2 linked regions of the Homo sapiens genome follow. The protein of the gene in region 2 purifies or fractionates together with the protein of the main gene of each other region. This does not show direct contact. Each region holds a gene or a part of one and is shown on either strand. Other genes may lie near its edges. The genes, in order: OTUD7B and RHBDL2.

Evidence for each region.
Region 1: the proteins of RHBDL2 (region 2) and OTUD7B purify together in Homo sapiens (affinity purification with western blotting; one study listed by BioGRID). This does not show direct contact.

What each region holds. Positions count from the first base shown.
Region 1 is NC_000001.11:150,003,981-150,007,800, forward strand, and holds part of OTUD7B (OTU domain-containing protein 7B), read right to left. Parts: exon of another isoform or gene 2,725-3,820; intron 1-2,724. UniProt on the Homo sapiens protein: Negative regulator of the non-canonical NF-kappa-B pathway that acts by mediating deubiquitination of TRAF3, an inhibitor of the NF-kappa-B pathway, thereby acting as a negative regulator of B-cell responses.
Region 2 is NC_000001.11:38,917,547-38,921,366, reverse strand, and holds part of RHBDL2 (rhomboid-related protein 2), read left to right. Parts: intron 1-1,837; exon of another isoform or gene 1,838-2,029; coding exon of another isoform or gene 2,030-2,154; coding exon 2,155-2,400; intron 2,401-3,820. UniProt on the Homo sapiens protein: Involved in regulated intramembrane proteolysis and the subsequent release of functional polypeptides from their membrane anchors. Known substrate: EFNB3.

The sequences.
Region 1 (3,820 bases), about 110 Mb from region 2:
CTAACTTCTTTATTTCACTCAATGTCTCAGACACCCAGGCACAACGTGTCACAGTTGTAGTTGACTCATCACCCTTCTTCATCTCCCACATCCACCCCTCATTAATTTCCATTTTTCCTTCACAGTCTCTTTTTCACTCTTTCCTCTCCTTAGCCTACCCTCCACAACTCTAACTCGGGCCTCATCACTTCACACACCCCCAGTGTCAATCTCCATTCCCTCCCAGCCAACCTGTGTATTAGTATCATCATACTGCTATTCTATTCAAAAATCTTCTACCATTTAAAATATAAAGTTGACCGGGCACGGTGGCTCATGCCTGTCATCCCAGCACTTTGGGAAGCTAAGGTGGGCGGATCACTTGAGGTCAGGAGTTTGAGACCAGCCTGGCCAACATGGTGAAATCCTGTCTCTACTAAAAATACAAAAATTAGCTGGGCATGCTGGTGCACGCCTGTAATCCCAGCTACTCAGGAGGCTGAGGCACGAGAATCACTTGAACCCAGGAGGCGGAGGTTGCAGTCAGCCAAGATTGTGTCACTGCACTCCAGCCTGAGCTGGACAACAGAGCAAGACCCTGTCTCAAAAAAATAAATAAATAAATACATAAATAAATAAATAAATAAATTTTATATATATATATAAACTTATAAGCCTAGCTTTTTAACACCCTCTATAAACATAGCTCCAAACCAACCTACCCACCTTCATTTCACTACTGCTCACTGCCACTCAGGTTAGTCTCCTCACCGCCCCAAGAACATCTCAGGTATAGTCCTGTTTCCAGGCTTTCGCTTGATCCCTTTCAGCTCCAATATGAAATGTTTTGTTATCCTCTTCATCTTCATCCCTTGTACCTAATACAATAACACTTATTCATTTATTTTTTTATTTATTTTGGAGACAGAGTCTTGCTCTGTCACCCAGGCTGGAGTGCAGTGGTGCTATCTCGGCTGTTTGCAACCTCCATCTCCTGGGTTCAAGTGATTCTCCTGCCTCAGCCTCCTGAGTAGCTGGGATTACAGGCGTGAGCCACTGTGCCTGGCCTATTTTTTTATTAAGATCTGAAATGAGTTATAATTCCTCTGTGACATAACTACCTGAGTACTCCTCTCCCCAAATACCTACGGTATGAGGTCTGCACTATGCAACTAACAATATAGTTTCACATTTTAAAATTTTGTGTGGCATATTAAGAGGCTCAGCAAGTATTCATTCCTTTTTATTCTTCTTACTCCCAACTGGACTGTAAACTCTTCAAGGACACAAAGTTGTCATTTTTCCTAATCCTCCATAGCACCTAGCAAAGAATTAAACTCATAGTGGGTCACTACAAATAACAGTTTAGTAATTTTCTTATCTACAGCTATTTCTTAGAGGAAATAAAGGGCTAAGGTATAATCCTAAAAAAAGCACAGTTGAAAATAATCCCTATCTAGTTGTATAAAATAAGATTCCTGACTTTTCCACCTGATTTCTAGCTCAGAAATACTACAATCTCCTGACTCAAGAAGTAAATAATAATCCTGTGCTCGTGACATCAGTTTGGTAATGATTATAAAGAGGTGGGGGAGAGTGGCAGGGATGGAGAAAAGCAAGTCAACTGGAGAAGAAAAAAAAGGGATGAAAGAATGGCATGTGATTTTGTTTACTTCTTAAATGTGGACACTTCTGCCCATTCCTTTTTTTTTTAATTGGACATACTTTCAAACAACTTTCCTACAGGAGGAAAAGTCTGACAGATTTTCAATGAAGCTGATATCTGGAAGAGCCTCTACAAAGCACAAGTCCTTTGAGAAAGCCGGCTTAATCTTCAACAACACAACATAATGTAGTGGCATTCGTCCAGATACTGTGAATGAAGGCTCATTCTGGCTGGAACACAAGCATCACCTGCCAGTCATTCTCAGACATAAGACAGACAGCCTAGGAGGCCACATTGGATCCATACAGATTTTGAAAAGAAATTGGTCTATCAACATATTCAGTGTAGTCTAGTCTTAATTATCTACAAATGGATTATTCATTTTACGGATTTCTAAGGCCAAATCTTTAATGCAAGAATGACTGTTCTTCATCATCAGTGTACTCTCCCCACCATCAGGTAATATAAGCTTAGAAATGCAAATTTATTTCAATATTAGTATGATCCCCAAAAATGAAAATAAATCTAGTTTAAAAAATAATGTATTTTCGGCCCGGCACACTGGCTCACGCCTGTAATCCCAGCACTTTGGGAGGCCGAGTCAGGCGGATCACGAGGTCAGGAGATCAAGACCATCCTGGCTAACACGGTGAAACCCCGTCTCTACTAAAAATACAAAAAATTAACCGGGCGTGGTGGTGGGCGCCTGTAGTCCCAGCTACTCGGGAGGCTGAGGCAGGACAATGGCATGAACCTGGGAGGCAGAGCTTGCAGTAAGCTGAGATTGCGCCACTGTACTTCAGTCTGGGAGCAAAGTTGTCATTTTTCCTAAACCTCCATAGCACCTAGCAAAGAATTAAACTCATAGTGGGTCACTACAAATAACAGTTTAGTAATTTTTCTTATCTAAAACTATTTCTTAGAGGAAATAAAGGGATAAGGTATAATCCTAAAAAAAACACAGTTGAAAATAACCAGGAAATGTCTTTGTTAAGTTCTGAATTACCTACAACAGTGCTCCCTACATTAGCAGAGACAACTGAGAGTTAAATGCACTTGAAACATAATGCTGTCCTTACTATAAGCTCTTGAGGAGAATCCGGCCATAGTCTTGAGACTTCCCCACAGGTTGGTGCACTACGAGACAGGAACAAGCAGGCTCAGCATAGTAAGGTGTGTAAACACAAAAACTTCTACAAGGAATCTTATGCCTCCTGGCTGTATCCCTTCAGGTTAGGATGGTACAGAAAATAAGAGTCACAATGTACGGATGCCTGCCTGATTCCTTGTCCCTGAGTTCCTGAACCAAAGGGCTCAATATTTCTCATTAAATCCGTCCTTTGTTCAAGGACCTACAATGATTCTATTGACCCTTCTATCAACACCCAACAGAGTCTGGCTTCTGAGTCCCCTCCACCCTCTTGCCTGCTCTACTCATGACTTGCCCAACCCACATTCTCTACAGTCACTCTCATATATTCCCCCCACTCACAACTTAGTCATTCATATCATCATTGCACACTGTACATTCTATACTTTCTGTTTGGAAGATCCTTTCTTTTCTTTTATTCCCAACACAGTAACTATTTCATTTACTTGAATGCTCACATTTTACAGATAAGGAAAAGAAGTTAACTTGTCCAAGGTCACATGGTAAAAAATAGCCGCAAGGTCTGAACGAAGACCCATCTAACTCAATAGCCCATACCTCTTTATGACTCATCCATAGCCTCCCAAGTCCATTTCAAAATTTACTGACTCAGAAATCTCCCCAATTTATTTCACTGATTCTTACTTTGTTACTTTAAGTCTTCTCAGCCCTTACATACTTATCAGCACGTTAAATTTGCTTTTGTCTATATGTTGTTTCCTAAATGTTAAAGCTCATAATAGTCTGCCTTCCCATATTTATACACCACCTTTCCCATCCACCCTCAACCCCAAGAGCAAAGACACATGTCTTTACATCTTTTATACCTCCCTAAAGCCTGTCACTGGAGCATGGAGACTGCTTTATCCAGAGAAGTGTTCAATCATTACTCAGCAAGGATGTCTTATTTAAAAACAAACAAACAACTCTCTTCTATTATATTAAAAAGTCAACTGAATTCAGGCATTCATGAGAAAAACTGCCCTGTATCTATCTTCCAGTTACACAAATTTTTAATTACCTGA
Region 2 (3,820 bases):
CTCCATCACCCAGTCTGGAGTGCAGTGGTGTGAATTTGGCTCACTGTAACCTCTGCCTCCCAGGTTCAAGCGATTCTCCTGCTTCAGCCTTCCTTCAGCTGGAAGTACAGGCACGTGCCACTATGCCCAGCTAATTTTTGTATTTTTAGTAGAGATGGCGTTTCACCAGGTTGGCCAGTCTGTTCTGAAACTCCTGACCTCAAGTGATGGGATTACAGGCGTGAGCCACCACGCCCGGCCCAGATACTGTTTTAAGTGCTTTACATGCATTATCTCAAGTAAGCTTCCCGGCAATGTTATGAAGCAAGTGCTATCATTATCCTCAGTTTAAAATGGAATCTGAGGGTTTCCCAACAAGTTAAACATAGAATTAATTACCATATGACCCAGCAATTCCACTCATAGGTATATGCTCCCCCTCAAACTGGAAACTGATGTTTAAAGAAAACTTGTGCCAGGTGCGGTGGCTCATGCCTGTAATCCCAGCACTTTGGGAGGCCGAGGCGGGCGGATCACGAGGTCAGGAGATCGAGACCATCCTGGCTAACATGGTGAAACCCTGTCTCTACTAAAAATACAAAAAAAAAAAAAAATTAGCCAGGTGTGGTGGTGGGCACCTGTAGTCCCAGCTACTCAGGAGGTTGAGGCAGGAAAATGGTGTGAACCCGGGAGGCGGAGGTTGCAGTGAGCCGAGATCACACCACTGCTCTCCAGCCTGGGCGACAGAGCGAGACTCTGTCTCAAAAAAAAAAAAAAAAAGAGAAAACTTGTACAGGGATGTTCACAATAGCGAAAAGGTGGAAACAACCCAAATGTCCATAAACAGACGAGTGGATAAACAAAATGTGGCGTGTCTATACAATGCAATAGCATTCAGCCATTAAAAAAAGGAAATTCTAGGCCAGGTGTAATGGCTCATGCCTGTAATCCCAACACTTTGGGAGGCCGAGGCAGGTGGATCACTTGAGGTTGGGAGTTCGAGACTAGCCTGGCCAACATGGTGAAACCCTGTCTCTACTAAAAATACAAAAATTTTCTGGGTGTGGTGCCGGGTGCCCATAATCCCAGCTACTTGGTAGGCTGAGGCAGGAGAATCGCTTGAACCTGGGAGGCAGAGGTTCCAGTGAGCCGAGATCGCACCACTGGACTCCAGCCTGGGTGACAGAGCGAGACTACATCTCAAAAAAAAAAAAAAAAAAAGAAAACATGTGAAGGAAGCCAACCACAAAAGGCCACATACTGGATGGTACATATGTATTGTATGATTTCATTTATGTGAAATATCCAGTATAGGTCAATCTATAGACACAGAAAGCAGATTAGTCGTTGCCAGGGACTGTGGTAAGAGGAGAATAGGAATTAACTGCTTAACAGGTATGGGTATGGGGTTTTTGTTTGTGATGAAAAAGTTTTGGAACTAGTGGTGATGGCTGCACAACATTGCAAATGTACTCAATGTCACTGAATTGTACACTCTAAATGGTTAAAAACAGGGCCGGCTTCGGTGGCTCACGCCTGTAATCCCAGCACTTTGGGAGGCCTAGGCGGGTGAATCACTTGAGGTCAGGAGTTCGAGACCAGCCTGGCCAACATGGTGAAACCCTGTCTCTACTAAAAATACAAAAATTAGCCAGGGAGGGTGAAGCAGAAGAATTGCTTGAACCCAGGAGGCAGAGGTTGCAGTGAGCTGAGATCTCGCCATTGCACTCCAGCCTGGGCAGAAGAGCAAGATGACTCCACCTCATAAAAAAAAAAAGAAAAAATATATATTATATATTAAATGGCGAAAATGGTAAATTTTATGTTATGTGTATTTCACCACAATTTAAGAAATATGTAATTTGAGGCTTGGAGAATTTAATTAAGTGATTTATCTGATGTTAACTTACAGCTGATACATGGTAGAGCTGCATTTTAATCTCAGTCATCTGGCTCTTTTTAAAACAATTACATAGAAAACTTTATTTTGGGCCATTTAGGAGGTTTAGATCATTTTGATCATCTTCAGCTGTCTTCTCTTCACATACAGGAAAGGCCTTGGAAAGCAGTCGTTGCGCCAGACAGCCCAGGGAAGAGCGGCAGCCTGAGGACCTAGGGCCACCTGCTGTTCCCTGGGATTCATGTCCTTCTGGGGAGGAGGGAGGACCCAGGACAATGGCTGCTGTTCATGATCTGGAGATGGAGAGCATGAATCTGAATATGGGGAGAGAGATGAAAGAAGAGCTGGAGGAAGAGGAGAAAATGAGAGAGGATGGGGGAGGTAAAGATCGGGCCAAGAGTAAAAAGGTCCACAGGATTGTCTCAAAATGGATGCTGCCCGAAAAGTCCCGAGGAACATACTTGGAGAGAGCTAACTGCTTCCCGCCTCCCGTGTTCATCATCTCCATCAGCCTGGCCGAGGTGAATGGGGAGCGGGGTGGGCACCGGGGTAAGTGGCATGGGGAAGCTGGGAACAAACTAGGGGTCAGATCTAGATCTAGAGAAGAGACTGGGAACATGGGAGAGAGCTTCGTGGGGATGGGGACAGCACACACCTCACCTCTGCCTCTGCTCTCCCCACAGCTGCCTTTGAGGCTTTCCCTATACTCACGGTCACTGCCAACCCAGGGTGGAGTTTCATTTGTCAGACAAATCTGCCCAGCTGTGGCTGCAATTTCAGTGGCTTCCTTTCATTTTAGTTGTGAGGTCTTTAGGAAGCAAATCATTCTGGGGTTGCACAAGGGCTTTCTCTCATGAACCGATTTAGGCTGGTTGGTAAGGCATTTCTGGGACCCCAGGTTTAGAAGTGTTATAGAATTCTTCTGAATTTCAGTAGGAAAAAAACGGGATCCTTTAACAATGTCTACTTCAGGCAGCACGTGGTGTGTTTTCAGGCTCTGATCTAGTCAGTCCTCTTGTTTTCCAGAAAAGACTGCAAGGCTCAGAGAGGTGGGATGACTATCCCAAGGTCACATCATAGTCACTGGGCCAGGATGAGGCTCCCCTGTACCTCGTGGCACCTAGTTTTTTCCCCCACACTTGATGTCCTATAAAGGAACTGGCCAACCATGGCTGCCTGTGGAGTGTGACTTCAGGGGCATTAGGAAGTTCCTAATGTAACCCTTTTAGTTCCCACTGATGCACTGATGCCTCAGCTTCCTTATCACAAACTGTATTAGTCAAGAGTTCTTCAGAAAAACAGAATCAATAGGTGTGTGTTCCCTGGGGGAAGAGAGATTAATATTTATTTTAAGGAATTAGCTCAAATGATTATGGAGACTTGGCAAGTCCAAAATCTTCAGGGAAGGCTGGCAGGCTGGAGGCCCAGGGAAGACTTGCCATTCAAGTCCAAAGGTAGAGTTCTGCTGGCAGAATTCCCTTTTCCTAACAGAGGACAATCTTTTCTCTAGCAAGGCCTTCAACTGATTAGACAAGGCTCACCCACAGTATGGTGGGAAATCGGCTTTACTCAAAGACTACTGATTTAAATATTAGTATAAACCATACCCTCACAAAAACACCTAGGATAATGTTTAAGCAAATGTCTGGGTAGCATAGCCTAGCTAAGTTGACACATAAAATTAACTGTTGCAGGGACCAAGCCTCTTATGGCTCAGACAAAGGTAAGGCTAAGGTGTAAGCATCCTGGGAGATGCTGTGGTCAAGTCTGTTTAGGGTGAAGGGGCACAGTTCTAATTTTTTTCACAGGATTTCACTGTGAGACTGCTTGCAACTGGGAAGTCGTCCGGATCTGAGACATCTGTATCTGTTTTTTCTGCTTCTCCTTCCTGTTATCCTTCTGGCCTATGGGTTGTCTTGTGTTTCAATCAGCTGTGTGTGT